Regions from separate parts of the Homo sapiens genome. Here regions 2, 3 and 4 are each linked to region 1. Evidence: fine-mapped expression QTL. A gene starts in region 1. Each other region holds a variant in brackets. All regions are shown on one strand. Distances are between the middles of the regions. Region 1 holds the start of MGAT4A (alpha-1,3-mannosyl-glycoprotein 4-beta-N-acetylglucosaminyltransferase A). Region 2 overlaps MGAT4A (alpha-1,3-mannosyl-glycoprotein 4-beta-N-acetylglucosaminyltransferase A). Region 3 overlaps INPP4A (inositol polyphosphate-4-phosphatase type I A). Region 4 overlaps LINC02611 (long intergenic non-protein coding RNA 2611).

Evidence for each region. PIP is the estimated chance that this variant, and not a neighbour inherited with it, causes the effect.
Region 2: its variant is the best candidate, but not a certain one, in a credible set for the expression of MGAT4A in whole blood (TOPMed, PIP 0.85).
Region 3: its variant is the best candidate, but not a certain one, in a credible set for the expression of MGAT4A in whole blood (TOPMed, PIP 0.89).
Region 4: its variant is the best candidate, but not a certain one, in a credible set for the expression of MGAT4A in whole blood (INTERVAL, PIP 0.73).

Annotation. Positions count from the first base shown.
Region 1 is chr2:98,726,698-98,734,838 of GRCh38, reverse strand. It overlaps MGAT4A (alpha-1,3-mannosyl-glycoprotein 4-beta-N-acetylglucosaminyltransferase A), which reads left to right and starts at 3,707. Exons shown (of 16, transcript NM_012214.3): 1 at 3,707-3,791. It overlaps LOC107985922 (a long non-coding RNA gene), which reads right to left and starts at 3,558. Exons shown (of 2, transcript XR_007087150.1): 1 at 3,144-3,558. RefSeq lists silencers at 2,759-3,053, 3,160-3,349, 3,370-3,699.
Region 2 is chr2:98,659,766-98,667,906 of GRCh38, reverse strand. MGAT4A (alpha-1,3-mannosyl-glycoprotein 4-beta-N-acetylglucosaminyltransferase A) reads left to right here. Exons shown (of 16, transcript NM_012214.3): 5 at 4,728-4,861. Among named protein-coding and RNA genes, the nearest start is that of UNC50, 55 kb to the right of the region's middle. The variant G/A (reference allele first, on the strand shown) is at 4,349.
Region 3 is chr2:98,562,936-98,570,935 of GRCh38, reverse strand. INPP4A (inositol polyphosphate-4-phosphatase type I A) reads right to left here. Exons shown (of 25, transcript NM_001134225.2): 18 at 7,299-7,471; 19 at 6,173-6,296; 20 at 5,170-5,296; 21 at 4,767-4,907; 22 at 2,268-2,365. Among named protein-coding and RNA genes, the nearest start is that of COA5, 42 kb to the left of the region's middle. The variant C/T (reference allele first, on the strand shown) is at 3,418.
Region 4 is chr2:98,754,878-98,763,018 of GRCh38, reverse strand. It overlaps LINC02611 (long intergenic non-protein coding RNA 2611), which reads left to right. Exons shown (of 4, transcript NR_126337.1): 4 at 441-1,956. Among named protein-coding and RNA genes, the nearest start is that of LINC02611, 13 kb to the left of the region's middle. The variant C/G (reference allele first, on the strand shown) is at 4,183.

The sequences.
Region 1 (8,141 bases):
AAATAAAGGCAGAAACAGAAACTGTAGAAGTAGAGAATAAATAAAAAGGAAGTGATAGAGGAGGAGAATCATCATCAACAATATTAAAAAGAGAAAAAGATATGGAATGGGATTCAGTGGGGTTTGGATGGATTGTCTTTGATTATTAACAGATACTATGGACTTAGTTGGAAAATCCAGGATCATAAACTCTGCTAAGTTAACATGAATCATCAACCAATTATACCCTATACCTTGGAATAATATATTCTATGGCATTCCAGTTTCTTGGGACAACTCACTGAAATCCAGACTTTCCTGAGCTACAATGTATATGGTTTGAGATAAGTGTAACCCTATTTTCCAAAACCTGCCCTTCTGCTGCCAGTTGAAGCAGCAACGAAGTATCAAAAAAGCCTCCAAGTGAAAGCAGTTGTGTTTTTCCTGTACACTTTTTGTCTTCTGCTGTGCTTCCTCCACTACCCAGAGTGCAGGGGAAATTCCGCTTTTTATCTGAATAAGCCGGTGGAGTCTATAACTGAAGTTTGTCCTTCCCCCTATTCCTTTCTCCTCTGACATATGCCTCTGCTTATAGAATGTCTGTAAATGCTTTCATTTCCTTCCTTCACTAAGAGAAAAAACTGGAGAAGGTGAAGAGAAACATCTTTTTTTTTTTTTTGATGGAGTTTCACTCTTGTTGCCCAGGCTGGAGTGCAATGGCGCGATCTTGGCTCACTGTGACCTCTGCCTCCTGAGTTCAAGCGATTCTCCTGCCTCAGCCTCCCAAGTAGCTGGGATTATAGGCACGCACAACCATGCCCAGCTAATTTTTGTATTTTTAATAGAGACAGGGTTTCACACTGTTGGTCAGACTGGTCTTGAACTCCTGAACCTCAGGTGATCTGCCCGCCTCAGCCTCCCAAAGTGCTGGGATTACAGGAGTGAGCCACCACACCTGGCTTTTTTTTTTCTTTCTTTTGAGAGAGAGAGAGAGAGAGAGAGAGAGAGAGAGAGAGAGAGAGAGACAGGGTCTCACTCTGTCACCCAGGCTGTAGTGCAGTGGCATGATCATATTTCATTGCAGCCTGGAACTCCTGGGCTCAAATGATCCTCATGCCTCAGCCTTCCCAGTAGCTGGGACTACTGATGCATGCACACCAGGCTAATTTTTAATTTTTATTTTTTTAAAGACATGGGTCTCTCTCTGTTTCCCCGGCCGGTCTCGAACTCCTGGGCTCAAGCAATCCTCCTACCTCTGCCTCCCAAAGTGCTGGGATTATGGGCATGAGCCACTGTGCCCAGCTGGGAAATATATGTAAAAATATTCATCCACTCAACAAAATTTTGTAACTTGCTGAAGATGTGAGCAGAGAGATAGTCTGGAGGGGTGATGTAGGGGCTCTGGAATCAAACAGACCTGGATTTGAACTCTGATTCAAACATTTACTAATTGCCTAAATTACTGTTTGTATCTGTCAAATGTCTTAATTTCTCAGGGCCTCAGTTTCTTCGTGAATAAAATAGGGATAATAGCTCCTGTTCCATTTGGTCTTTTGGGTAATTCATGAAAATGGCTTGGGGGCATTCTCCATGATGTTATCAAATGGCAGGACTTTCTTCCTCTGCAAGAAGTAGTTTGCTTGTCTGTCATTAAGAGCACTGTAATAGCAAAGCCTAGAATCATCTATTCCTAGGAGATATTTTAGGCAGGATATATCCAACAATGTATTAAAAGCTTTACCTTGGAATGGTCTCAGTCTTTACCTCTGTTTACATCTGGTCATGAATCAAATTGCCAGCTTGCTACTTGGCAATGGCTTTGTCATAGAATACAGGAAACCTGGCTTTCAGGTCCCCAATGTATTCGTCCGTTTTCATGCTGCTGATAAAGACATACCCAAGACTGGGCAACGGACAAAAGAGGTTCAATGGAGTTACAGTTCCACATGGCAGGGGAGGCCTCACAATCATGGTGGAAGGCAAGGAGGAGCAAGTCACTTCTTACATGGATGGTGGCAGGCAAAGAGAGTTTGTGCAGCAAAACTCCCTTTTTTAAAACCATCAGATTTCGTGAGACTTATTCACTATCACGAGAACAGCATGGGAAAGACCCTCCCCCATGATTCAATTACCTCCCACCAGGTTCCTCCCACCACACAGGAATTGTGGGATTTACAATTCAAGATGATATTTGGGTGGGGACACAGCCAAACCGGAAGTAGAGAGAAAACACACTCAAAGTAGAGGGAAGAGCTGTCATTGGATATCATGGCTGTGATCCCCCAAGTTGTGTCCACAGTGCTGGGCAGTGGACAGATCTTTTGGTATGGTTCCCCTAAACTAGTAAGAGACTATGGGAGCAGGGATGTTACGTGTCTCTTCCTGAAGTTTTAAATTAGCCGTCATGGAGAAACCTCAACATGGGAAGGCTGATAACTCCATGCATGTTCTAGCTGATTATTAATTATTCTTATCTTGAGATAAAAATAATGGAATTTATCGGAGGTGGGGAGGGGACCCTGTTCTGATTGATGCCTCTTAAGAGTTTTCGATTATTGAAATTACTGTTTTCTGAAAAGAATCTACTTATTACTTTGGGAGTTTGGCAGGAACAAGGCTGCCTCCTTGATCTTTGGCCCCTCAATTCCCTTACAGGTTACTCGGTAGGATTGCTGTAAGGATTATTGCGGCAATAAAGTTAACACATCCCTTGTTTTTGAACCATTACCAGCTGTGTGACCTTGGGCAAGCCCTTTCACCTCTCAGCTAGTTTCCTCTTATGAAAAATGGGGAATAAATTTAAAACATGAGATATGCAATAAACGATCTAACACCCATGCCTGCTATACGGTTGCCTGCTATACAGTTAAGTATTCAAAAGAGGACGTACCCAGGGGTAGTTACTGTTAGCACAAGTCCTATGGATACTATGAAAAACAGGGACAGACCACCCAGGCTTTCTACAAACGAGTCAGTTTTTTGCCTTTGAAGTTAACCTCTAACCTTGTGAAACGGCGACAGATAAGGACATGGGGTTCAAGAAAACGGGGCATAGTGGAAAATCAGGGGCATTAGCACCCAACGATGTGCGTTGAAACCCTAGTTGTTTTTCTCCTTCCCAGTTGCTGAAATCAGCCCTTCTGGCCGATTCGCGGGGTTCTCACCGGGAAGTTGGGGCTGTCGCGACCGTCCGCGGGGCCTCGGGAGCTCCTGTGGGGCTGGGCCCGGGACCTGTCCCCGGGGAGGCCGCCCAGTTTGGGCGGCCCGGAGCGGGGCGCGCCGCTGGGAAGGGGCCGGGTCGAGGCAGGCAGGCGCCTGGGAGCTGGGGCAGCCCCGGGTGGTCGGGTCGCGCGCCGAGGCGCAGGCCGAGGGCTCGCCCGGGCCTTTGTTGGCCGCCGGAGCGGTCCCTGCACGCGCCGGGAGGATCTCAGCCAGATGTGGCAGCGGGGCGGCGGGGAGCAGGCCGGCGCCCAGAGCTGGGACCCGAGACCGCGGCTCCGCTCCGGACCTCGCCGTGACACCGATGAGCCGGGCCAGCCTCCCGAACGCTCCGCAGGCTGCGTGGCGGCGCCCCTAAGTGACAGTCGCGCGGGCCACTGGTGGGGCGCGGGGCGCGGGGCGCGGGGCCCGCGGGGCCGGCCAATGGCTGGCGGGGTCGGGGCGGCCCGGCGGGGCGGGGCGGGGCGGGCGCTCCAGCGGCGGGGGCGGAGCCGGCGGGGCGGGCGGGGCGGCCCGCAGCGGCGGCGGCAGCGGCGGCGGCGGCTACAGCAGCTCCGCCGGCAGCCGCGGGAGCACGGCGACGCCAGCGGCGGGTGAGGGGCTCGCGGCGGCAGCGGCGGCGCGCGGGGGCGGGAGGGGGCGCGGGGCGGCTGCGCGGAGGGCGCGGGAGTTGGGGGCGGCGCCGGCGGCCGGGCTGGCGGCCCCGGGCTGCGGGAGATCCACCTGCTGGTAAAGGAGCCTACTGCGCCGCGGCCCGGCCGGAGCTCTGTGCGGGGGAGCTGTTGGCGCCTCTGGGCGCGGGGCCGGCTCCGGGAGCGGCTGGGCCTCGGGGGCGGGCGGCGGGGCGCGGGCCGGGCCGTCCTCCCAGCGTCCCTGCCCCGCACCGCGCACCCCTCGGGGTCGCGCGCCCTCTCTGCGGCCGGCTCGGCGCCTGGTGCGTTCCTGGCGCTCCCCGGCGTGGCGGGGCTCGGCGACTTTGGGGGAAAGTGGAGCAAAGTGCTGATCCGGGGGGTGCGGAGGGGGAGGGACAGCTGCCTGTGGGACCCGGGGGCTGCGCGGGAGTCGGCGCTTTCGCGGGGGCCGCGGGGCAGGTGGGCGGGGCCGGACGGTCCGAGGCGCAGGGGCAGGGGCTGCTCCCGAGGGGACCGGCCGTGCAGCCTTCGCAGGGAATTTTCACACAAAGTGAAGGGCTGCGGGGCCCGCGTGAAAGAGCAGCCCCCGTTTCCCCAGGCCTCAGCTCTCTCCGTAATGAGGAAGCTGCAGTAGGACCCTGAGGCTGGGTCTCGGTGACTCCACCAAGTGTGCCAGGTGACATCTCGGAGGCGAGCTTTTCTGAGCTGGCAGTCGAGCCACTTGCACACCCGCCTTTATTCCTCGCAACAGTGTGTTTCTCTGGAGCGGTTTCATTGCCTACATTCCGCATTGGAAAATAGAAGCAGGCACAATGTATGCTTTGAATGCTTTCCACGTATTTTGCTGTTGTGCTTTTGCTGTTGGACAGATTATTTGATAAAAGATAATGACAGTCGTTCGTTGGAACGTAGACTGTAAATTTAGAATAAAAATATGCGTTTTGTGGTTTATGTTTCTTTTTCTGAATGTTTAAAAAACAGTTTGATGAACAGGTTATCTTGACATAGATTTCTTTAACCCACACGTGTAAACCCGAAAACGCACTGGGCGATGACATTACGTAAGCTGTATTAAAGAAAACTACTGACCCGTTTATAAATGGCAAATAAATGAATTTTGCCACAATTGTGGTGTGTAAAGTTATATAGGCTTACGTCATGGATTTTATTGATTCCAGATATCAGGGATTATTGTGCCTTTCATTCTTAAGTCACCTCTACCCTGTCTGTGGGATGCTGATTAAGGAAGATGCCAAACGTTCGGCAAAGTGTTCTCAGCCGTGGACTATATTGAGTATTTCAGAGAACACTTTAAAATAAGTAAAGGTTTTGTATCCAATAATAAAATGAAGACTGAAGCCCTTAAAGGATTGCTAACAAAACAGTCTGATGTCTAGAGTTGAAAGTTCCATTCACCTTTGGGAGGGTGGAGAAATGACTAGCAATTTTAGCCACTACCTTTTTTTGTTGTTGTTAAAGATTCAAACGTGTTAGATTATAGTCTCCGAGAATATTAAGGGGCTAGATTAAAATTTTTGCAAATGTGGACACTAATAAAAATGTGGGTCACCTGTGTCTTACAAGCCAGCCTGTGAATTATGTCTCATAATTGAAGAGTGAGTAGATCCTTGGTTTTACTCTTGTCCGAAGAGTTTCTTCACTTGTGCCGTGCAGTTAAACTTATTAGCTGGGAAACCCTAATTAAAAATGTATGACTACATTCTTACTGAGTAAAACACGCATATTTTTCTTGCAAAATTTCAGGGCTTATTTGCTAGTAGAATTTATTGTAAGTATCTTCAGAGTTTCATAACTTACTGGATCCAGTATTTTTTTTTTTTCATATATTAGGGGTAGTATATCAATAGTTTACTTTGGTTTTAGAGTTCATTTACTTGTCTCTATGCATTTCTACGGAATGTTTTTACAAGCTTTATTTGTATTTAGTAAAACTTTTAAAATATCCTTAACTATATGATGTGCGCTCTACCTCCCCGTTATTATGAATTGAGTGCTTACTCTAATAACCTGTATGCTTTTTAGATCTTTTACTAGAACAAAATTCTTTCTCAAGTAAAATAGGGCTAAGTAGATAGCAGCTGAAAGTTATAAGTATTTTAATATAATGCCACACCGGGATTAATGTTCCAAGTTATATAATTCATAGAATTATCACCCGTGTTTTTATAATCAGAATTCATTATTGGGTGCTTATTGATTTAAGACAATTAGAGCAGTCTTGCTATGAAGTTTTTTTTTTTTTTCAAACTGAGTCTCTGTCACCCAGGCTGGAGTGCAGTGGTGTGATCTCGGCTCACTGCAACCTCTGCCTCCCAGGTTCAAGTAATTCTCCTGCCTCAGCCTCCCGAGTAAGCTGGGATTACAGGCACCTGCCACCACTCCTGGCTAATTTTTGTATTTTTAATAGAGACAGGGTTTCGTCATGTTGGCCAGGCTGGCCTTGAACTCCTGACCTCGGGTAATCTGCCTGCCTCAGCCTCCCAAAGTGCTAGGATTACAGGCATGAGCCACCACACCTGGCCACTGTGAAGATTTTAATTCTAAACTGTAGACGTGGGCATGTTTGATGTTAACTTGTCTTAACTGTAGAAGGTGAATAAGTTCAATCTTAGAGAACAATGATAACTTCTGCATGAGAATATTTTTAGATCTCTTTGTGTTCAGGTAGTAAAAGAGGTTAGGTGCTTCTAGAATATTATGTGGAAGGTAGAGCTGCTGTCTGAGGGTTAACAGGCATAGTTTGGTGGAGGGTTGTGGTGAGGTATTAGCCAAAAGCTACAGGAAGTGGAGATTTGTTTAAAGTTGTATAAACATACACTTTGAAAATTTCCATGAATTTTGCAACTTACTCCTTAGTAGATCAGTGTGTGTTATATAATTTATTTTTTTAATTTACACTTACAGTTGGGTATAATTCTGCAGTTTTACCTGATACTTGGAGTATCCCTGGAACTTCTCTTCATATTGCCAGGTGCAGGAGGCCTCATTTGAGAGGGAAAGTGTAGCAGCTAAGAGCTTGGACTTTGGAGACAAACAAATTCGAGTTCTTTCTCTGGATTCATTTCCTTGTGTGTAGAACAGGGTTAATAATGCCTGCCTCATAGGAACGATTTTGTGAAGATTTAAACCATGTGGTGGATCAGGCACATAGGAAACATTTCATAAGTTGTAGTGGCTGTCATTATTAGTACTATGCCCCTGTGATCTTTCTTTACTAGGGGGAATTTCTAGTAGTGTTCAGTGTTAAGAAGCAGTGGTGGTGGCAATTTCTGAATTGCCTGCAAATGGCTGCTTGAATCGGTTGTGCTCTTCCCCAGAGAGAATTTTCCCTTGGAACTGCTGGCCATTTTTCGAGGTATATTAACTCCCCCACTACAGTGTCAGTATATTACCAGGTGCATCCTGTGGCACCTCCTGAGGCTACCAGGAATCTGTTCACATCTTGGAGGGCCTGGCGTGCCTCCAGGGATTGAGACTGACCATGCATAGAGTGGACTGGAACCAGTAGCTGGCTGGTTTTGTTGTTGTTCAATTAACCAAAAAAGTTTGGTTTTTAGTACAGTTGACATTTTTTGAGAACCTATTATATGCTGAATGCTGTGCTTAAGTACTTCTAAGACTTCATTTCTTTCCCTTTTCCCAACAGCTTTGTTCGATCAGTGGTGATTTCCCAGATTTCTTGATTTAAAGCAATGCAGAGTGATAGAGCCTAAGGTGTACAGTATCCTGGCTGGATTGCTGCATTTTCTAAATGCTTAAATAGTTCCAGTTTACACCCTGGGAGTGGGTTAGTCACTGGAAAAACGACATTTATTTTATGACAGTGATAAACAGCAGTTATAACTGTAACCTTTTAATAATTTATGACAATATGTGAAAGAGGACACAGGACAGATTGTTACCTCATTTTGTGAATGAAACCTTGAGACCTAGATAAGTGGCATGCCCCAAATCATGTAAGTAATGACAGAGCTGGGTCAAGGGTCCAGGTCTTTTGACCCTTATATATTGTATTCTGTCAATTTTCTTATTAAAAAAATTTCCTATTATTGTGCAATAGGAAAACTGGAGAGAGTGAAGATTATGTTACTCAGGAACCATTGTGTGATCATTAGAGTTCTCATCTTGGAATCTGTGAGCTCCACTTTTCCCTTTAAAATCAGTCACCATAACTTTCTTTTTACAGACAAAACAAAACCAATGAGGAGGGAATATAGTTTGAAGCTGTTTTGTATTTTTTTCCAGGAGGAGAAGGACCATATAATTCCAGTATGTTAAATGAGTAGTTTC
Region 2 (8,141 bases), 67 kb after region 1:
CTCTACTAAAAATACAAAACTTATCTGGCCATGGTGGTGGGCACCTGTAATCCCAGCTACTCGGGAGGCTGAGGCAGGAGAATCATTTGAACCTGGGAGGTGGAGGTTCCAGTGAGCCGAAATCATGCCATTGCACTCCAGCCTGGGCCACAAGATCGAAACTCTGTCTCAAAACAACAACAACAACAACAACAACAACAACAACAACAAAAACTGAATGCCTTTAACAGCACCCAAGTCACCTCTTGAATGCTTTGCTGCTTAGAAATTTCTTCTGCCAGATACCATAAATCATCTCTCTCAAGTTCAAAGTTCCACAAATCTCTAGGGCAGGGGCAAAATGCTGCCAGTCTCTTTGCTAAAACACAACAAGAATCACCTTTACTCCAGTGCCTAACAAGTTCCTCATCTCCATCTGAGACCACCTTAGCCTAGATTTCATTGTCCATATCATTATCAGCATTTTGGTCAAAGCCATTCAACAAGTCTCTAGGGAACTCCAAAGTTTCCTATATTTTCCTGCCTTCTGAGCCCTCCAAACTGTTCCAGCCTCTGCCTGTTAACCCAGTTCCAAATTCACTTCCACGTTTTCAGGTATCTTTTCGGCAGTGCCCCACTCTCCTGGTACCAATTTACTGTATTAGTCTATTTTCATGCTGCTGATAAAGACATACCTGAGACTGGGCAATTTACAAAAGAAAGAGGTTTAATTGGACTTACAGTTCCATGTGGCTAGGGAGGCCTCACAATCATGGCAGAAGGCAAGGAGGAGCAAGTCACATCTTATGTGGATGGCAGCAGGCAGAGAGCAAGCTTGTGCAGGGGAACTCCTCTTTTTAAAACCATCAGATCTTGTAAGACTTATTCACTATCACGAGAACAGCACAGGAAAGATTTGCCCCCATGATTCAATTACCTCCCACTGGGTCCCTCCCACCACACGTAGGAATTCAAGATGAGATTTGGGTGGGGACACAGCCAAACCATATCACGTGCCATCTAAACTTTAGCAAAGCAAAACGGAAACCAAAAACCCTCGAGAGTATGGTAGGGATAGAGAATTTGCATTGTGACTTTATGCCATTCTTGTTTGCACACTGTGGATCACCATGGGCTTTGCTTTCATCATAGTGAAGTCTTTGTACTCCATGAGTTAGCATTTTCTAGGAATGCTCCTCATCCTAGTTGTTACGCTGGTAATTTTTTTTTTTTTTGAGACAGGGTCTTGCTCTGTCGCCCAGGCTGGAGTACAGTGGTGTGATCACAGCTCACTGCAGCCTCTACCTCCCAGGCTCAAGTGATCCTCCCACCCCAGCCTCCCAAGTAGCTAGGACTACAGGCATGCGCCACCATGCCCAGCTAAGTGTTTTATTTTTTGTAGATACCAGGTCTTGCCAAGTTGCTCAGGCTGGTCTCGAACTCCTGGGCTCAAGCGATCCTTCCGCCTCAGCCTCCTGAAGTGCTGGGATTAAAGGCATCAGCCACCACACCCGGCCTTAAATTCTGAGGTAGATTATTCTATGGAATTTTGCTTCCATTGTAACTCATCCTGTCTTTTGGGATCTCAGAGTAACATGGTCAGAAGAGAAATCTGGATTGGAGGCCCTCTCCTCAAGTGTGTTGTTCTGAGTGAAAGTTGCCCCCGTCCAGTTACTCAAGTCACCCTTGATTCCTCCCCTTCTCTTGTCTGCCAGCTGAAGCCCTATTTGCAAGGGTCTCCATCATCCACTCATCTCCACCTCTTCAAACACCCTACAGCCTCATTCAAACCACCATCTTTTCCTTCAGTTAGTACATTAACTTCCTAACCACTCTTCCAAAGTGCTTTTACTTTTTGTGAAATTTGGTAATCTCTTAAAATTACAAATTGGATAATGTCATTCCCCTGCTTACAACCTTACAATGGCTTTCTCTTGCACTCAGCATTAAAACAAACTTTGTTATATGCAATGTGACCCCTGACTGATTTTCTCAATCTGGGCTTATTCTGCTTTCGATCCAACCTGCTCTTGGTATTTCTTGACTATGTCAAAATCATTCTGGCTTCAGGGCCTTGTTGCTTCCTCTTCTGCAGTATTCTTCATCAGCTCTTTCTCATGGTTACCAGCTCAGCTGATATCAGAGAGGCCTTCCGTGACCACACGACTTACAGGGGTACCCCCTCCCCATTCATCACTCTGACAGTACCAACCTATACATAGCAGCCTGTAAGATACATATATTTTAAATCTTTTTCCCCTTTCTAGAATGTGCGTTCCATGAGGGCAGGGACCTTACCTATGTTATTTACCATTGTATGCTTAACACCTAGAATAGTGCCTTGCAGTAAATATGTGCAAAACAAATAGAGCAAATATCTTTTTTTGGGGGGACGGAGTCTCATAGAGCAAATATCTTTTTGAGTGCTTGAGAACTCTTCTTGCCTAAAATGGAAGAGAGGGTTGTGTCACGAGACCTTGGGGCAGTCCCTTAAACCTTTCGCATCTTAGTATTCTTACCTCAAGAATCATGGTGGTAGATCCATGGTCTTTACGCTCCCTTCTGGCATTAGAATTCTTTTTTTTTTTTTTTTTGAGATGAGATGGAGTCTTGCTGTGTTGCCCAGGCTGGTGTGCAGTGGCGCGATCTTGACTCACTGCAACCTCCGCCTCCTGGATTTAAGCAATTCTCCTGCCTCAGCCTCCTGAGTAGCTGGGACTACAGGCGCCCGCTACCACACCCAGCTAATTTTTTGTATTTTTAGTAGAGACAGGGTTTCACCGTGTTAGCCAGGATGGTCTCGATCTCCTGACCTCGTGATCCACCCGCCTCGGCCTCCCAAAGTGCTGGGATTACAGGCATGAGCCACCACACCCAGCCCCTGGCATTAGAATTCTGTGAATTATAAGTATTTTTTAGTATCTCCAAAAAATTGTTGCATGATTAAGACTAAGTTGTTTTTACCATATTTAAAATACTTCTGTATTGATACATAGCGTACTAAGACTTTAAGGCATAATTTTTAAAAATTTACTTTGAAATACCTCTATAATGCAGTATAAGTGTTCCTAAAAATCACTGTGGTATGAAAATGGTGCAAAAAAATGAGAGCAAGGGGGTTAGGATCACAACACTCAAACACTTTGTCAGTTACACTATAAAAAAGGATAAGAACCTAATTATAATAGTGGCACAGTTTTTCGCAAGTTAAATGATTAAGAAACACATAAATGTGGCATTCCATCTTGAAAAAGCCCTGAGATTTGCTTGTTGAAGTGGGTTGCTGAAGGATTGCAGCTTGTAAGTTATTGTGAAGGGCTGTGAGGTAGGTTATTTGCAATCTGATGGAAGGTTGCAACACCCAGTGTGGATGGGTGTGGTTGATAGTTGTGGTGAACTGAGACAGCTGGTAGGTATTTTGAGGTGCGTGCATTTTGTATGCAGTATTTCTACATGGTTCGGTTTAATTTTCTGAACTCAATTCAGCTGGGTACAATTTTCTGTTGTTCACCTGGTGTTTGTCTCAGAGGACAAATTGCACGTAAGCTAATGTGAAATTCATGTGTTATGCCCCAGTTTTTCCCTAATATGTTAATCATGTAGAAACAAATTTGCATTGAAAACAAGCATTATAGGAACATTGACTGTAATTTTAGTCTTTAAAAATGTTGCACAAATAGTACACAAAGTTTTCTCTTTTTTTTTTTTTTTTTTTTTTTTTTTTTTTGAGATGGAATCTTGCTTTGTCACCCAGGCTGGAGTGCAGGGGCACAATCTCAGCTCACTGCAACCTCTGCCTCCCAGGCGATTCTTGTGCCTCCACCTCCCAAGTAGCTGGGATTATAGGTGTGCGCCACCATGCCCAGATAATTTTTGTATTTTTAGTAGAGACCGGGTTTCGCCATGTTGGCCAGGCTGGTCTGAAACTCCTGAGCTCAAGCAGTGTACCACCTGTACCTCCCAAAGTGCTGGGATTACAGGCGTGAACCACTGTGCCTGGTCACAAAGTTTTCATATGCCCTTACCCAGTGTCCCTACATGACCATAGTATAGCGATCAAAAACCAGGAAGTTAACGTTGATGCTACACTGTTCACTAACCTTAGCTCTTACTCCGATTTTGTCATGTGTTTCATTGTTGCTGTTTTTCTCTTTCAGGATCCAAATCAAGATCCCATATTTCACTTAATTGTCGTGGTTCCTTAGTCTTTTCCAATCGGGGACCATTCATTACTCTGTCTTTCATGACCTTGACACTTTAAAGAGTACTGTTATTTTGTGGAGCATTGCCCCAGTTTGGATTTTTCTGATGTTTCTTTACGGTTAAGTTGAGGTTATGCATTGTTGGCAAGAACAACCACAGAACTGAT[G/A]TTGTGCTCTTCTCGGCATGTCACATGCTTGAAGTCGAGAGATAAGACATTAGTTTTTAAGATATGTTTAGTGTTTTTAAGTTTTAGTTGTAAAATACAGTTTGCTGTTTATACTTCGCAGCCATTCATTTTTTAGTGTGAAGTTTAATGTCTTTCATTTTTATCAGTTCTTTTTTTCTTATGGTTAAGCCATGTGAAAATGAATTACAGTATTACAGGTATGCCCTTGTATTCTTTATTTTTCTTCCTGAAACTTAATATATTTTGATCCATCAGTTATTCCTATCAATTTGAGAGGGTATAATACTTTTGAAATAGAAGTGTTTTTCTGTATTGTCCTTGTACAGTTTTTTAATATAATTACTATTTTTTTTTCCAGTTTCAATAGTCATGGGCATTCCCACAGTGAAGAGAGAAGTTAAATCTTACCTCATAGAAACTCTTCATTCCCTTATTGATAACCTGTATCCTGAAGAGAAGTTGGACTGTGTTATAGTAGTCTTCATAGGAGAGGTAATTATTTAATTGTTGTTATGTTTTTACCAAATATAGCCTATAAGAGTTGAAACTCTAATTGAATATTTGAATATGCTTTTAAAAACGCTTTTTAAAAAATGTGATGAGTAAAGCTTAGGTAATATATTCTATCTGGTAGTTTAATGTAAATTGAACTCACTTCTGTCCTGCAATTACAAACCAGGAATAGTAATATTTGTTGTCAATAGGATGTTACACCCGTAGATCTTTAAGAACGTGTGCCTATTTCTAGCTCTAAGACTTAAATTTGGAGATTTGCACTGATGATCTTTGGGAGTCCTGAAACCTGAAAAAGGTTTAGGCTCAGCTGGGGTTTTATCATTCTTTTATTCTCTCCATCCCTTCTCTGTACTCCTAAGAAATCATGTGAATGAGAAATACCACACTTCTTGTATTTTAGTCTCCTCAAAAGATTTAGAGAAAGAATAAATCTTGAGCAAGTTCTTTTTAAATCATGAGGAATAAGACCCTAGAGTAAATATTTTCTTAATTATTGTATAGAATTTCAGAATGGGAAAGGATTTAGGACATGGTCTAGTTCTGGCCCACTAATTCCTAACTTTTTAGAGTTCCCCATGTCTTTTTAAATGAAAATGGTCTTGATGATTTCCTTATTAGAGAAGTAAACAAATGCATACTGTTCAAAACAATTACATAAATATATAATGAAAAATTACCTGTTACTCCTCTACATAAATATAACTATTTCAAATTATATGTTAAGACTTTTTGTTCTGAAATAATTTTAGATTTACAGAAAGTTGCAGAAATTATAGAGGGTATCTCCTTCACTCAGCTTGCTCTGATGTTAACAACATATGTAGCCATATTATAGTTATCAAAACCAGGAAATTAACACTGATATAATACTCAACCAAACTACAGACTTTATTTGAGTTTCCTGTTTTTCCGCCTGGGTTCGCCTTTCTGTTCCAGCATGCACTATGGAACACCACATTGCAGTTAGCGGTTCTCATGCCTTAGCTTCCTCCTGTCCATGTTTGTGTCTTTCATGAACTTGGACATTTTTGATGGGCACTGGTCAGTTATTTTGTAAAATGTCTCAGTTTGGATTTATCTGATATTTTCTCATGATTATATTTTGACTATGCATTTTTGGCAAGAATAATATGACTTGCCTTTTTAAAAAGGATCCTGCTGTCTGCTTTGGTAAGGGCAAAAGAAAGGAGACTACTTAGAAAGCTGTTGCCATAATCGAGGTGAGGCTTGGACTGGGAGACTGTTCATGGAGGTGATCAGAGATGGGTAAATTATGAACATGTTTTTAACTAAATGGGTTCTAATAAAAAATGAGAACCATTGCTATAGCATCAACATGCTATTAAGGACAAAGCTCCAATTAATGAACTTAAAATAGCCCTTTTAATGTTTTCTGTTTAGTTTTGTACATTTGAATAGAAATATGTATCAAATTTAGGCTTAAATGTCAAGTCTTCAGAGAGATTTTCTCTGAATGTAATGTTTAAGTAGGCCATCTCTGTTTTTCCTCTATTATTGCATTCTATTTTTATAACACAATATTCAGTTATATATACACATACATATGTGTACATATTTTTGTTTGTTTGCTTATGAACTGCTTCTCTCACCAGTTTTAAGTTCTACAAACAGAGATCTTCTTTATTTACCAACCTATACTCAGAGCTTGATAATATGGATACAGTGGATCCATGTATGTATCCAGTATGGATACAGTGTATATATCCATCCGTTTCTTTTCTCCACATTCTTCCTAATACTTGTTATCTTTTGTCTTTTTGACAGTTAGCCATCCTGACAGATGTGATGATATCTGATTGTGGTTTTAATTTGCATTTCCCTAATGATTAGCAGTGTTGAGGATTTTTCGTATATCTGTTGGCCATTTGTATGTCATCTTTTGGGAAATGTCTGTTCAGGTCCTTTGCCTATTTTTTCAGTGTTTTTTCTTACTCTTGAGCTGTTTGAGTTCCTTATATATTTTGGATATTAACTGTTTATCAGATGTGCAGCATGCAGATATTTTCTCCTAACCCATAGGTTGTCAGGCATGCTGTTAATTATTTCCTTTGCCATGTAGAAGAGTTTTAGTTAGATGTGATCCTATTTGTCTATTTTTGTTCTTGTTGCCTGAGCTTTTGGGGTCATATCCAAAAAACCATTGCCCAGGCCAATGTCGTGTAGTTTTTCCCTTATGTTTTCTTCTGGTAGTTTTAGAGTCTTCTTTTGTTTTCAATCCATTTTGAGTTTATTTGTATATTTCACGTGAGTTGAAGTTCCACTTTCATTCATCTGTATGTGGATATCCAGTTTTCTCAGCACCATTTACTAAAGAAACTTTTTTCATTGAGTGTTCTTGGCACCTTTGCTGAAAATCAATTGACCATACATACATGAGTTCATTTCTAGGCTCTATATTCTGTTCCATTGGCCAGTGTGTCTGTTTTTTAAAAATCAATACCATACTGTTTACATTATTATAGCTTCATAGTATAGTTTGAAATAATAAAGTGTGTTGCCTCCAGCTTTATTGTTTTTCCTCATGATTACCTTGGCTATTTGTTGTGTGTGTGTGTGTGTGTGTGTGTGTGTGTGTGTGTGTGCGCGTGCGTGTGTGTGTGTGTGTGTGGTTATATATGAATTTTAGGATTTTTTTCCCATTTCTGAGAAAAATGTCATTAAATTTTTTGATAGGGATTACATTGAATCTGTAGATCACTTTGGGTAATATGGACATTTAAATGATATTAATTCTTCCAATCCATGAGCAAAGATATCTATTTATTTGTGTGTTCTTCAAATTATTTCATCAACATTTTATAATTTTTGGTGTCTAGTTCTTTCACTTCCTTGGTTAAATTTTTTCCTAAGTATTTTTTTGGTAGCTATTTTAAATGGGATTGTTCTCTTGATTTCTTTTTCAGATAGTTCATTGTTAGTATGTAGAAATGCTACCGATGTTTGTATATTGTTTTCCAGAAAGCCTGTTATAAAAACTTTTTATAATTTGATGGTTTTGCAATTTCCAGGATTAAGCTATACCTTTTTTGTTTGTTTTTCTCAAGTATTAAGTGCTTTGACAGTCTTTATAACATAGATTATATTTTATATATCATTGAGTCTTTTAACAATTGAGCATTTTTATAAGTTATCGCTGTATTTAAAATTGATAGGTAGGTGTATTAGTCCATTTTTATGCTGCTGATAAAGACATACCCAAGACTGGGTAATTTATAAAGAAAAATGGACTCACAGT
Region 3 (8,000 bases), 160 kb after region 1:
CCCAGGCATCTGTATTTTTCCAGGCTCTCTGGCTCCAACTGCATCTCTGCCAGTCACCTCCACTCCCCTCAAGGCCCCGGTTCTGTGCTCACCTCTCTCATGTTGAGCAGGACAAGAACACCTGTTTTACTGGGGAGACTGAGGCTGCCCAACCTGAGCATATTTCCTCCATTCATGTCCCTACCTTCTCTCCTCCCTCCTTCCCTCCCTGCAAGGGCACCCTCCGCCTGCCCACTCCAGGGCCTGGTCTGTGACTCTGGTGTCCTCTTGCATCTTCCAGCCCTGTGTGTTCTCCTTCCCTCGGACCTTTGAGCACTCCCATGGCCCCTGCAGCTCCAGGGTGTGTCCCACCTGCCCACAGCCCCATCCCTCAAGTTGCTGACAGTCTTTGGGACAAAGTGGTCCATTCCAGGGCAGCACCATTTCATCACCCCTTGATCCCTGGCCCAGCCCTCACCACAGTGAGACTGTATGGGAGAGATCACCAGCAGCTCCTTGTCCACACATCCAGTGTCCGGCAGCGCCCCACACCCTCCTGGCTCCTGCCTTCTTCCTGCTAGCCTGTGATGCTCTCTCTCGCCTTCTGTTGAGTCCCTTCTTCCTCGCTGTCCCCCAGAGCAGGGGCCCCTCCAGATGCTGTTCCAGCCCCTTCTCGTCTTGTCACTCAGTGGCCTCAACCACCAAAGGGCTCTGCTCTGTGGCTCCACATCTGCACTCCCCACAAGTCATTTGCCCATGTCATCAGCTCAGCTGGGGCCAGTGCTGCACTCGCTGTCGGTCCCCTGTAGCCCTGCGCCTCTCTCATCAGCGGGACGGCCCCAGCTGTTGCCGGCAACTCCAGCGTCCTTGCCCAGAGCCAGGTCTGTCAGCTCTCCCAGCAGACACAGCCCTCACCTCCCCAGCGCCAGCTGCACGTGGCCGCTGAGGAGTGCATCCTCAGCCCAAACCCCCCTAACGCCTCATCCCTCTCTCCACGCTCACTGTCACTACCAGGCTGGAGTCAGAGTGAAACAACATCTCATCTGAAGTGTCACAGCCTCACTCTGGCCATCAGCGGCTTGCCTCCCCTCTTCCAATCCAACCGCACACTCTTGCTAGATGAACCTGTGAAGAGGCGTCTTTTTTCCCACTGCTTCCCTGCTGAAGCCACGACTTCTTGGCCCAGCCCCGGAGTGTTCTGCATCACTCTCTCCTAGCAGGACGGCTTCAGCCACAATCCAAGCACATGGGCTTCAGAGCCAGGCACCCCTTTCTTCATCTGGACATGGATCCTATCACCGACCCATAGGGCTGTTGTGGATTCAGCGTGGAAACGTATGTAGAGCCCAGCCCAGTGTCTGGCACATCCGTGACCTGTGAAGGTTCACCAGCAGTACTGTTTGACTATCTCTAAACTCTAAGGTCTACCGTACCGTCCAACAGGATGCAGATGAAGCCTGCCCAATGCAAAGCCCAGCCGATGTGGGTTCCCTCTTTGGAAACCCCCATCAGAGGACACTAGTGTAACACAGAGGGGATGATACCTTCTGACGCGTGGCGCCCCCTAGTGGCTGTGGCAGCGCCTGCACAGAGAGGCCGGCACTCTGGGACCAGCTTTCCCTCCAAGGTAGGGTCCACCCCTCATTCGCCATCGGATCCTCTAGCACTTTACACACAGCAGGTCCTCAGGGAATATTCACTGGGTTGAACTCAAGAGGGAATTCTCGTAGACAGTGCTGTGCAGCTCTCGGTTCCTCCCTTAGTTCTGTGGCTGCAGAGCCCTAGCTGCAGCATCTTCACTGCAGGACACGCAGAGAGATTACTGTCACCATCTCCACTGCCTCCAGGAGATGCCGAGATGGGGCCACCTTGCTCCCAAACACCCAGCAATGTTGGCCCCGCATCTTCCTCTCTAAGCACCACAAAGGGAAGTGAGTGGGCCGCTCACCTGGCCGAGGGTGGGTCCTGCCTCTGTGATTCCCCCAAGTCCTACCAGGAGGTGCACAATGCATGCCACCAAACACATCTTGTGTCAGTGACTACGACAGCATGGGAAGGAGCCATGTCACATAGGCTAGTAGAGAATCGACAGCAAAGAGATGAATGAGGGCCACAGCCAAGGGAAGCTTCTCTCTCTCTCTCTGCGTGTGTGTGTTTAGGGAGAAAGGGAACAGTGCACACACATGCACAGGCATGCACTCACAGAGGCAGGGCAAGCCAGAGCTCAGACATCTAAACTGATAAAAAGACGAGTAAGTGAAACCTACCATGACTGAAGAAATACTTACAATCCTCAGGCAAAACTTCCTTAAACTGCTCAAAGTAGGAATTTAACCGCACCAAACTCTCCACGTTGATGACTTCTTGTAAAGACGTATCGCCAAACCTTGGGAGGTTATAGGGGATGCCATTAGTTGGCTAATGTCACTTTCTTCTAACATGAACACAACTGCATGGAAGCTAACTATGCTGATTCTCTCAAACATTTACTATGCATATCTAAATTCTAAGCCACTCTCCCTCTTCCGAGCATAAAGGCATTTCTACAGTGTTGCTGATCAGTTTAAATGCATTCCATTGGCAGGAATCATGTATCACTGTTACAGGCGTGCCTGAGAGATGACCAGAACATGATGTGGTACAGATCCTGTGCAGCACAGGATCCCCCCTCACAGCCATTTGGCTCAGAGTCCCTGGTCTCCTCCCATCTGAGGCACTTAGGAGGGGGGACGGCAGTGAGGTATGGCTGAGAGGTGAGGATGCAGCCCTGTACTCCAATCTGAAGTCACTCTCTGTGTGCAGAATGAACACACCTGACTGCCAGCCCCTCCGGGACTGACATGAAGCCCTTGCCCTTTCGTCATCGTGCAGGTTCACCCTGATCACACTCAGTGTGCTACAAGGAGCATGTGCCAAATGCCTAAGAAACAAAGCCATAAAATGCCACCTGCAAGGAAGGCACAAGGTGATCATTAGGAAATGCAGGCTCTGAAGTCCAGGTCCTGGGCCCCAGTGCAGTCTCACACATCCCTGCTGAGGGGCCTTCCGAGCATCAGCTTCTCTGTGGCCCGAGAGCATCCCTCAGAGGGCAGGATTCCCTCCTACGGGTCCCAGCCCATCCACCCCTGGTGTCCACAATGGCCTTTTCTCTAGACGCCTGCTCCCTTGGGGGCCATCCCTGACTCTGGGCCTGTGGCCTCCCCTCTGAGGGCTCTTCCCTCAGCTTATAAACAAGCCCAGCTCACCAGTGACCTCAGGGCCAATAAAGAAACAAAGTCAAGAACCTGCCCTTTGCAAGTCCTCTCTGTCCTCAGTGTTGCATCCTCCACCCTCCCCTCTATTCAATGCACCTGGCTCTGGCTCAGCCCTCTCTAGAAACTGCTCCTGCAAGTCTGTGGGATCCGCAGCTACTGGATGCAGGCACCATCATTTTCCCTC[C/T]CCTGGGCCACCTCCCTGCTGGGGCTCCAGTGAGGCTGCGCCTCTCCCTGACATAGGCGCCTCCAGCTCTGCTCACACCTTTGGGGCTTTGCTTCCTGGGCTGGTGCCCTCAGTCCAAACCCAGCTCACCACCTGCCTCTGGACACGACTCTCCTGCCAGTTTATGAGCTCAGTGGGTGGGTCTGTCTGGTGTACTCTCCTCCCACTCAGCCCCAGCCCCAACCCCACTGAAGACCAAACCCTTCCACTGACCACTTTAACAGTTCCCCAGCCTACCCCTCTGCAGAACACCAACACTCCCCTGGCCCTGATCCAGGTTCCCACCTCTGGCCTGGACTCCTCCCAGCAGCCTCCTCCTCACACTTGTCCCCTTCATCTCCTCCCGGCACGTGCCAGCGAAACGACCTACTTTAAATGTAAATCTGATTGTGTCCTGCCCCACTGAGAGTTCTTCAGTGTCTCCCAGCAATGATACCATATTTCCTAAGTTGGTGTGACCCTACACCTAGGCGTCAATGGACATCAACCACTGGGGTTGGACATCAGAAGGCCCAGCAGGAACACGGCATATTGTTCTGGAAACCAAATTTCCTTCACAGCAAGTACTTGAAGATCTCTGTTTAGACTATTCTACACATATCACATGAAGATAAATGACAACACAGGAATCATTCTCATGTACTAGTGGAAGGCCAGTAAAGGGTACATATACCCAATCTACCCTATCTCCTCACACACATGTGCGCACACAGGCACACGTGCACACACAGGCACACACAACTCCCCTCTGCAGTGTGGCAAGTGACCCTGGAGGGCAGTTGCCTTTAGGTTCAGGCATGAGTCTCAGCCTGGCACACAGAGCCTGTCTACCCTTACCTGCCAATCCCTGCCTGGAACCTGGTGCCCCTGAACTCCATGCTGTTTCTCCTCGCCAGGCCTTTCTTCAGTCTTCTTAATCTGACATGTCTCCCCTCCACCTCATCATCCAACTCCTATTCACAATTCAAAGCCCCATCCCCTGCAACTCCAAGAAGCCTTTACAGACCCCCTAGACCTTGCTGGGTGCCCTACTCCGGATCCCACAATGCCCTGTATCTGTCTTCATCATTGCATCCATGTCTCTCTCTCTCCCACCAGCTGAGTCCCTGAGGACAGAGACCACCTCTGGGTCACTCTGTGTCCCTAGCACCAAAGACAGTGAGGTGCACGGCCATGATGAAAATGTTGGCCAAAGGAAGGAAGGATGACAAAGTCTGTCCAGCACTTAGAGCCTGAAGAGGGGTAAGTACGTTTTCTGCATCATCTCCAGGGCCACCACACCCCCGCAGCCCCGAGGAGCCGGCACGCACCTCTCGGCCAGTGTCTGCTGCTCATTGATGCCCACGTTGAAGAGGACGGGCTGCACTCGCAGCAGCATGCCACTCTGGATCTCCCGGGGCAAGGCGTCAAACAGCGGGCCCGGCAGAGGGACCCGCACGTTAAACCCGTCGCTGGAGAAAGGTGGAGAGAGGGAGAGCAGTGTGAGGCCAGAGGGCCACCGAGCAGGCTGCAGTGCCCAGGCTGGCCCTCTGGCTTAGTGATGGCCAAACTGCCAACCACAGACCTTTAAGGGAGTGGCACTAACCTAGGGGGCTGTAATCAGAGCATTTAACAAAATGAAATAGGATAAAAAATTCAGAAGAGTACCTTCCCTGAGATAAACAAAAATGAAAACCGCTCTCTGGCTCAGAGAATTTTAAACCAACACTCTACCGATTTCCTGTGATGACGGGCAGCATGTCTGCGGAGGCGCTGGAAGTGGCCTGAGTGACTTTGAAGGTCACGTTCCTCAAGTCCATGATCCCAAGGCTCATGTCCTCCAGCATTGCCAGCTCCTCCCCTGGACATGAGAGAGGGGCAGGGCTGTCAGGCAGAGGGCCCTGCTACTCTCCCCAGTCTCAGCAGAAGGCAGCCAAGCCCAGGCCTGGCTGTGACAGGAGGGGTGCAGGTGTGGCTCTGGTGGAGGGGGAGTCTCTGAGCCTCTTCCCCTGCAACTCACTCCTCTGTGAGTCAACAATGCCTCTGAAATCCCACAGCCACATCAAAACATGCATCTGGTGGAAACACGCGCCATCCCTTCCCACTATTTCTTGGGCAAGCACCAGATAGTAGGGAGGGAAACAAATACATAAACTCAGAAAGCAAAGCCAGCTCTTGAAACACGAAATGAGAGATGCTAAAGCAGCTTTGCTGTGGCCAGACCCTCCCATTACACAGGGCTTGATATCTATTCGATGTCCTCAATTTCCAATGATTAACAAATGCTTTCTATCACCTTCTCAGAATAAATAAATAATAAACAAGGGTAGGAAGAAGAGAGCCTTTTTAGAGGGCAATTTGGAAATATCTATTAAATTTAAAAATATTCCTACCCTCTGACCCAGCAACTCTCCTTCCAGTCATTCAGTAGCTGCAGAAACAGGCCCACAAGTGCCTCATGCACAGATGTCACTGCTGCACTGGTGTTTCAGGAACAACCCAAAGTCCAACAGGAAGTTACTGGTTAAGTAATTAGCATCCATCCTCAACCAGCAACAACAACAAACCAAGGCGTGTGCGTGTGTAACTGCCAGGTCTGCCATCTGGTCTGCTGTTATATATTTTGGATTTATTTCAATAAGCACGCATTACTGGTATAGTGAGAAAAGTGCCTAGCAAGAAAGGATGGAAACCACACACGCAAGTGGGGCTCCCGATCCTGGCCCGGGCGCCTCACCGTAGGTGCTCAGCAGGCTCTCGAACTGGGCCAGCAGCCCGATGGTGTAGAGCTGGCGCAGGAAGCCGTCGTCATGCAGGCAGTTCCTCAGCTTAATGATGAAGCCGCAGATGAGGGCGGTCAGCTGTGGGAGCGTGGGGTGAAGAGGTTCAGGGTCAGGTGCCTGCTCACCAAATGGCAGTCAGATCATGCCCAGCCCCCCACCGCCCCCTTCCTCTGCTGCCACTGCTCAAAGGGGCTTCAGTGGCACCTCCCATCCCTTGAGAAGCCCAGGTGGGGCATGCCCTGGCCATGGGAAGACGCCCAACAGTGGGCTTGCTATTCCTGTCGCTCACCAAGTGGGTTTGGTTTTTGGCCCAGCTTCTGACCTGACCTATACCTGGCTTTATTCCTAGGCTGGAACTTCTGGAAGCCCATTATTAATTACTCACAGTGAAAGGGTCTATCTACTCATAGAGCCATGCCACCCCTGGCTGGAAACTGAGTTAGCCCCAGCAAAAAACAGAAGTGAGAGACAACATGGTCACTCAAAGTTTCCCCAGTGGGAGATTTTCTATGGGATGAAACAGGACTCTCCAGGATGGGTGAGGGAACCTGTAGAGAACCAGCCCAACCCCAAATCACTGTTCACTTTACTAATTTGATTACTGGCAACTATTAAACTTGTTACATTCATTTCAAGGCTTCACTTCTCTCAACAATAAGAGAGTCCTGCAACAAGCTGCAGAGCTAAGGCACCTACTGTTATACGAGCAATGTTTGCACTGACAGCAAATACCTGTGTTGCCCTCACTCAACCTCTGTGCAGTAAAAAAAAAAAAAAAAAAAAACGCAGCAAAGAAGCCTGTGCCACCCATGCATGCCCTCACTATCTCCTGGGTGCAGAATCGGCAGACTCTGCAGGTGCCAGTTCCTTGGGAGAAGCAAGCATGGGCTGCCAAGGTAGTTCTCCTGACTGTGTTGAAATGTAGACCTCTCTATTAAATAACCTTTAAAGCACCACCAGGAGGAAATATGGCCATCTGGGGTCTTTTACAAGTGAAGTGAGAGGGAAGGGCTTCCTAAGCCTGTCTTTTCTGAGCTGAGAGGTGCCCGTGGTCTCCCTCGGGGTGCTCCCGGGGCCTACCGTCTGGCAGAAGACCACGTCACGGCGGTACTGCAGGCTCAGGTAGGTGGCTATGGTGGGCGCGCTGTCCTGCATGAGCAGGAATACCATGGCCTTCTTGGCCTTGTCACTCATCATGGCCACGCAGTCGGTGAGAGTGGTCAGCAGCGGGTAAAGGGCCTCACTCCATTCACCTGGGGCACAAGCGAAGGGGTCATCACAATGAGAGAGAGATTTTAAGAATTAGGTTCTGGCAATTTAACAAGTCACCTGGCCCCTAACCACTGCAGTCCTCCCACTCCCCCATCTCCACCTCATCTTCCAGCTCTGTCTGGAACCAACCCAGTCTCTAGCCCTCTAGCCCTCTAGCCCCAGCTCTTTCCAGCAACCTCAAACACCAGTTCTACTCCGGTACCTCCAAGACATGCCTGGTCTCCTGAACCTGTTGGGGACCCTAAACAGAAATACTCAAGACAATGCCTTCGGAGGAAAACAACAAAGAAGCTTCTGCAAGTCATGACGAGGCCAGAAAATGCTCTGTCCCCAGAGGCCCATCTCCTTCCACAGCCCTGTAGCACCTCCACCCGGAGAGGAAGGACACCCAGAAAGGTTCTCTGTGATCTCCCTTCTCTTGACCTGGGTATAAAGTCAAGTCAGAGACTCCTCTGCCCTTGCCAAGCCTTGTGTGCAACTGTGTTCAATTCTTACCCCTGCACACCTGGA
Region 4 (8,141 bases), 28 kb before region 1:
GCGGATTCTGGTTACTTGTGCATATAGCCCAGGTTTCTTTGGGACCCCAGGGCTTGTCATCAAAGACAAAGTATCTAGTTGAATGGGGGAGATCATTAGGAGGCAGTGGCAAGCCCCAGAAAAGAAAGTGTCCCACCGTTGGGAGGCACATGGGGAGGCGGGTGGGAGTTCAGTCACGCCTGGCAGAGGATGTATGGAGGCAGGTCCCTCATGCCTTTAACTGCTCCACTGCTGCCTTACAACAAAGGAGAGACCTTCCAGACCCTCATCTGGCATCCTTCCCCTCTTTTCTCCTGAGCCCTGACATTCTGGCAATGCTTCGGCAACACAGAAGATAAAGCGTGGAGAGGGAGACTCAGCCACATTTTCTTACAGATGAGGGTGTGTGGCTGGAAAAGGGCCATTATCGACTCCTGTTCTCGCTTCCCCTCCTCTCTCAGAGTCTGGAGAACTTCGAGAAAAAAGGAGGAGGACACAAAAGGAAATAACAAAAAAGATGCATCCGGAGCAACTATGAGGATGGTAAATTGGTGTCTAATTCTGAAAATCATAATTGGTATAAATGCTATGTACTGTGGAAGGAGGGATGAAGGGTAGAGGGAATAAAAAAGAACATGAAGTTAGAATCCTTGGCATGAAAGCCTGCCATTTATACAAGCAAACAAACAAGATCAGGGACTATCAACTGGCTGGCTGAATTGGACCAATAGGCAGGTTTATTCAGCCCCACACTTCAAAAATTAGGAGATCTCCAAATTAAAATCTGGGAATCTGACCTTTTGTAACAAATCAGAGGATTTGCAACACCAAGAGCATCATCACAGGCAACGACCAGCTTGGATGGGCAGCGGCTGCCCCTGCAGGTGGGTCAGGTGCTCTTCCGTTGGACACAGTCTCCACCACTCCCTGTCGCTTGCTCCTTGCTCCCCATCAGCATAACTGTTTGGGCCTTATAGCATATGCATTTATCACTCCCTACTAGGACGTCCACAACATGAAATGAGAGAACGATTTGGTAAGTTCAACAAAAGGCATATTATGCAGCCACCATACATTCTTTGTGGAAAGAGAAGTGGCATAAATCAATTCATAAATTATCTCAAGTTGTTTCCTCTGGAGTCCTGGGCTGGCTGTTGGATGAATTCATCTGTCTTCTAGCAGATGGACAAGAAAATTGAATTGTAGTGGCCCATCAGGTGTCGATCGCAGCCTCTGGGTCCGTGTAGGTGAGCCCTCACCACAGAGAGAATGAGAGCTGGCTCTAGGACGGGGTGTTGATCTGTGCACAGCTGCCCGGGAAAGGGCCTAGAGAGAGGAGCTATGGGTCCTGCACTGACATCAGCCTTGAACATGAGGCTGGCGTGGCAGCGGCGGCGGGGTGGGGGGGGACATGAATAATTCATATCGCAACCAGATTGATGCTCAGTGAGCTTCAATAGGAATGAATTACCTTGTGTGCATTTCCTGCCTAAATGTCAGTGTATCTTTTCACAAGCGCCTGGGACGGGTTTATGAATAGGTGCATTCTCTGATGCCTCTGCTTTAGGCAAGGCAGTTTCAGAATCTTGGCTGAGTTTCCAACTTCTGACTTGCTATTTACAAACTGTAATCATAAGATTTCAAGTGACACATGACTGAAAAAAAAAAGCCCTTACTCAGGAGAAATCTGGATGGAAATGGAACAATGGTTTTGAATGTATCTGGATCATGAAATGAAAGTCAGGAGGCTTGAGTGTTCTGCTGAGAAAAAGTGATGGGGGAAGAACATAAACATGTATAGGACACTTACTGTCTTGGGAACTTTATGGGTGTTCTCATTGTTAACATCATTTAACAGATGAGAAAAACAGTTCTCAGACATTGCTGCTAACAGAAATTCAATGCAAGCCACATTTGTAATTTAAGATTTCCTAGTAACCACATTAAAAAAGAGAAAAATAAAAAAGAGACTGAAATTAAATTTAATGGTATATTTTATTTAACTCAGTATATCCAAAATGAACATTTAAATATGCCATTGATATAAAAATTACTGATGAGATATTATGCATATTTTTTCAAAACACGTCTTGGAAGTCCAGGGCATAATTCACTCTTAGAACACATCTCATTTCAGACAGCCACAATGTAAGTGCTCAAAAGCCGCCAGGCGTGGTGGCTCATGCCTGTAATCCCAGCACTTTGGGAGGCCGAGGCGGGCAGATCATATGAGGTCAAGAGTTCGAGACCACCCTGCCCAACAGGGTGAAATCCTGTCCCTGTTAAAAATACAAATATTAGCCAGGAGTGGTGGCAGGCGCCTGTAATCCCAGCTACTCGGGAGGCTGAGGCAGGAGAACTGCTTGAACCTCAGGAGGCAGAGTTGCAGTGAGCCGAGGTTGCACCATTGCACTCCAGCCTGGGAGACAAGAGGGAAACTCTGTCTCAAAAAAAAAACAGACAACAATAAAAAAAAACAAAACAAAACACAAAAACAGGCAGCAGCTCTGACACATGCACTTCAAGCTGCATGGCCTTGGGCAAATTGCTTAACTCCTCTGGTCCCCATTTCCTTATCATAATGTTGAGGAATGATATGTCTTCTCAGTTCCTCCTCGGTCATAGGGTAACAGACAAGCACGGCACAGTGGTCACTGTCACACAACAGCAGGGGATCTATGGGTGCAGGCAAGTGGCAAGATGACATATGTGAAATCATTAAAGTTGTATCTCAGATCCAGATGACAAGGATTGTTAAAGGCTGTTTGCATAACCATATTCAATTTGGGGTGATGCAGAAGGGGTATTCAGGGTCTGGTCAGCTCCCACGGGAGGCTTCCTACAACCTGCCAGGCCTTCACCTGGGCAGGCAGAATGCTAATGCCACCAGCTAGGAGGATGTTCTCAGAGGGACGGAGGAGATGGCAGCTTCTCCAAGTTGATCCCTCAAAACCATGACTTCTCTGAGATTTGTGTCTCAGGCACTCGTTTGCAATGACTACTGTAGCAAAATGACTAGGCACGTGCAAAAATGCTGCATCCAGCTTGTTTGAACAATTGCAGTTGTTCAATTTCATTCAGACCAATTAGGCTATATTTTTAGTATGATTATTCAAAGCATTGGTACTCCTTAGACAAAATCTTAGCTAACAAAAGTTAGCTGGAATGAAAATTTTACAGAAAGTAGAATATCTTTGTTACCAAAGGGAAGTTTATTTTGATAAAATTAAAAAGGCCAGGTACAGAATAACATGCAACTTAAAACTATCACGAGTGGGACAGTGTAGACGTGAGAAGAAGATGCCTTTGGGGCCAATGGGCCTGCATTCACATTTTATTTTTGCCACCCTTTTCTTTGGTGACTTTATTACCTTTAAAATGGGAAAGATACACATGTACCTTCCAAGTTACAGGACGGATTTACATTCTTGGCACCATAAATATTAGTTCCTTTTTTTTCTACATCAGTGAGAAAGGATGTGGTAAAACAGGGGGAAAAAAAATAGGCAAGGCCTTTGTGTTTTTGCTTTTTTTGTGGTCTAATTTCTTTTAACAAATAACAGTTGTTTTTCTGATTAGGAAAGTAACACATTCATTGTAGAACACTTGGAATATTCAGAAAAAAATGTATTTTTTTTTAAATCGCCAGTAATTCTACCACCAGAGATAAATACTATGAATGTTTTTGTTTGCACTAAGCACACCTATGTGATTGGGATAATATTATTACCTAAAGTGTTGTGTTCCACTTTTCATGCATGTGCTCTTTTTACATTCTATTTTATTTTGAGACAGGATCTCACTCTGTCACCCAGGCTGGAGTGCAGTGGTGGCATCACAGCTCACTACAGCCTCAAACTCCTGGGCTCAAGCAATCCTCCCACCTCAGCCTCCCAAGTAGCTGGGACCACAGGTGTGCACCAACACACCTGGTTAATTTTTTGTATTTTTTGTAGAGACAGGGTCTCACTGTGTTGCCCAGGCTGGTCTCCAGCTCCTGGCCTCAAGTGATCCACTTGCCTTGGCCTCCCAGAGTGCTGGGATTGTAAGTGTGTACCACTGTGCCTGGTCTGTACTCTCGTTTTTAAAAAGACTCCTCAAAAACGTTGGAATTTTCCTTATTTTAAAAATACTGTTGAAGAACATAACTTAATGGTTATATAATAATATTTCACTATATTGCTGTACCATGTTTTATTTAGT[C/G]CTATTTTTGGACAGCTAGGCTGTCTCCAAATTTTCTCAATACAGAAATTCTACATAATATTCTTGCACACAAATTTTGGTCCACATCTGTTGACGTCTTTAGGATAAGTTCCTAAGAGTGGAATGAGCAACTCTAAGGGTTTTTTAAGTGGTCCTGACTTATATTGCTAAATTACTTTTCCAAAAGATTATGGTAGTTGATGGCCCTACTATGAGTGAATGGTAATTTTTGTACCGTCTGGTCTCAGAACCAAACCATCAGCTACATTTTTAAAATAATGAATTGAGAATGGATGAATTGTAGGCACATATGGGGGTTCTATTTCTCTTTCTATGGGACTCTAGGTATGATTTTCCCATTTTTGTAATTAGGATATACGGCTCCAGGAAATTGAGAGTGAGCCAGATAGTTTCTGGAGAAGTCAACTGTACCGAGGCCAGGAAACACTAGTCATCCCTGAGGGTCAAACACAGTTATGTACTAAGAATGAGGAAGTCCCACACAAAGTGGCAAGATGCTGGGTTAGCCCACAGTCTTAAGAGGGAAACCTGTTCCAGACATGACTTCCGCCCTTGGCAGATGAGGCTTCTGGTTGCCTGCCAATTATAACTAGCTAGAAACAGCATCACGGAGAAACAGTAAAGCAACAGCAAGGTGGCGGCTGGAGACTCGGGCATGAGGCCCAAGGCCAGGAGAGGAGCAGCGGGTGGGAAAAGCCTGAAGGAGGGGCTGGGTCTAGACCAGCTAGCAATCCCACAGCAGCCAATAGCCCAGCCTGCTGGAGAAGAGATTTCTAGAAATGCAAAAGTTTTCACATGCAACCACGAAAGCAGTTCACGGGCGTTCCTGGCACTGTCAGGAGGAAGTCAGGATCACACAGGGTGCACCTGGAAAGCAGCTGCCCTCCCCAAGTTTGACCTGGGCTAGCAGCTGGTACTGCCATGTGGGCTCTGGGTTTTATGAAGTTGCAACACCAGAACCAGGAATTTGGGGAAGATAAAATAGAAACAGAGAAAATATTTATATTTATTTAGACGAGAGATGTGCACAAACCACAAGCCCTGGAGATGCAGGGCGTCTAAACCATTGCCATTATTTCAGTAGCTTTAGGAGAGTTCGCAAGGTAGCTAATGATAAGAAACAGGAGAAAATCATTCTCCAACCCTCACAAACGAAAATGTCTGATCCGAGCACCCGTGGCTGTCTCACTGCTTAACCCTTCCAAAGAATAAACATGAAGTACTCTTCAGTATGGCTATGGGAAGAGCACATCCTGTTGCATTAGGAAACTTTAATTACTAAGTTTGATAAATCAAAGGTTGTCATTTACATGATACATCTTAACTTCAGCAAGAGGTTTAAACTCATCTCACATAAATCACTCAACAACCAGAAAAATACGGTCCTGATGTTGGCATGAGAGAACACACAAAGAATGTTTTCAAAGGCTGATCTTGGGCCAATATAGCTTAAATTTTCATCAGTGATGATAGAGGAGGGTGCAAGAGTAAATGAATAAAAGAGACAACCCAGTATGGGGTTAAAACAGTAACTAGCCATTGAAGATAGGGGGAAGTGAGGGGTAAGTCAACAGAAATCAGTAGTATAGACATATAGAATGAAGTTTGATAGCATCACTTGCCTTTAAAAATGAACAAATTAAGAAAATAACAAATGGAGTGAACACACAGCCTAGTAAAACATTCACTGTCTGGAGTCTCCAAGAATAAGCCACCCTAGGAAGCTAGGTTTCCCATCTGAGAAACCTTAAATAACTAATCTTAGGTTTCATCCATTCGTAATGGAAAGTTTTCAAGAATGTGTCACTCATTTCTCTGCTTTTTTAAAGAATGTGATGGGCCGGGTGTGGTGGCTCGCACCTGTAATCCCAGCATTTTGGGAGGCCGAGGTGGGTGGATCACCTGAGGTCAGGAGTTCAAGACCAGCCTAACCAACATGGTGAAACCCAGTCTCTATTAAAAATACAAAATTAGCTGGGCATGGTGGCACATGCCTGTAATCCCAGCTACTCGGGAGGCTGAAGCAGGAGACTTGCTTGAACCTGAGAGGCAGAGGTTGCAGTGAGCCGAGATTTTCCATGGAGTAAATTTGCTCCATAACTTGTATACGAGAATGATCTAGGGTGCCTGTAGGTTCAGGCAAGTGAGTAGCTAGATTTAAAGTATGCCATACTTTAAGAGTTACATCAGGAGTGTCTAGCAATAAAGCCTGATATTTTAATGAGTCCCCCTGTCATCCACTGGTGTCTTTTAGTTTCTAGGACTCCTTGTACTTGGTGTGGGGTTAAAACCTCCAGATGTTGTCTTAAAGCCAGTTTATTGTTTCATCTACTAAGGCAGTTGCTGCAACTGCCCTGAGGTATCCAGGCCATCTTGAAGTGACATGGTCTAGTCGTTTAGAAAAATATGTCACTGGTCAGGGAATAGCTCCCAATTTCTGGACAAAGACACCTAGGGCAGTGCTTTGTTTTTCAGTCATATAAAGGAAAAGCGGCTTATCAAAATTAGGGATCCCTAGGGCTGGGGTTGATCCCAATTTCTCCTTGAGAGTTTTAAAAACCTGTTCACAATTACTATCCCATTCAAAAGGACCTACATCTGCTCCTTTCAGAGTCTCATCAAAAGGCTTGCCTATATGCCCAAATCCAACTACCCATAAAGAGCAGAATCCTGCCATCCCTAGGAAAGTCCACAGGTGTTTTCTAGTTTGGGGTTTTGGAATGTCCAAGATAGTTTCCCTTCATTCTGGTGTTATTGTCAGGGGTTGGAACTTATTCTGAGTATTTAATCTCTTGAGTTGAAATCTGGGCTTTGTGTGGTGAGACCCTGTACTTACTAGTTCCCAGAAAGTTTAGTAACTGAATGGTATTTTTGTCCAAGTTTCTTTTAGTTGAGCTAGTAACCAACAAGTCACTCACCTATTGGGTAATAGTGTTTTTACTTAATTGTACCATTTTAAATTCTCTAGGTAGTGCATTTTTAAACAGATTAGGGTTGTCCCTAGACCCCTGGGGAAGAACTGTCCAAGTTAATTAAGAAACTAAATGGCTATCAGTATCAGTCTTTTCAAAAGTAAAGATGAATTGTGAATCAGGGTGTACTGGAATGCAAAAAAAAAGGTCCCTGGGCTAACAGCGTGTAGGGATTGGGCACTGTAGTATGTATAGGAATGATAGTCTCATTGACAGCTCAAAGATCTTGAACAAATCTGTAGTCTCCATTTGGCTTTTTAACTGGCAAGATTGGTGTATGACAAGGAGATTCACAGGGCCTTAACAACCCAAACTGCAAAAACTTAGCAATTAGTGGTTGGATCCCTCTTTATGTCTCTGGCTTTAAGGGGTATTGTCTCTTCCATGGGTGTGGGACACCAGGCTTAAGTTGGATGCAAACTGGGGGAAGGTTTAGCATTTTGCCTGTAACTTTAGTGACCCATACTATAGGATTTACTTGGGAGGTTACTTCAACAGGTAAAGTAGGTAAGCCCCTTTGACTCTCCTCCCTTAACAAAGGAAAGGAGAAGGAACAACCCCTAGTCTGTCTTTTGATTTCCAAAAGATACCACTGTTTGCAATTCAGTTAACAATCCCTTCCCAACAAGGGGGTGAAGCATTCAGGTATGATAAGAAAGGCATGTGAGAAAACCAAAGTTGTTAAGGGATAGGTAAAATGGCATTTATGGGCTTGTCCATCTATCCCCGTGACCATACAGTTTTGGGGTGACAGAATCCCATTATAATGGGTCAAAACAGAGCAAGCAGCCCCCATGTCCAAAAGCAAGTTAACAGTCTTACCTGCCACGTCGAGGGTTACCCAGGGCTCCTTCGGAGATATGGCTAGTTGTCCAATGGGAGTTGTGGCAGAAGGTCCCAGGCCCCGTCACTCTTGGGCTTGCCTGGCTATTTCGGCCATCATTAATTTGGGTGCTGATGGCCCCC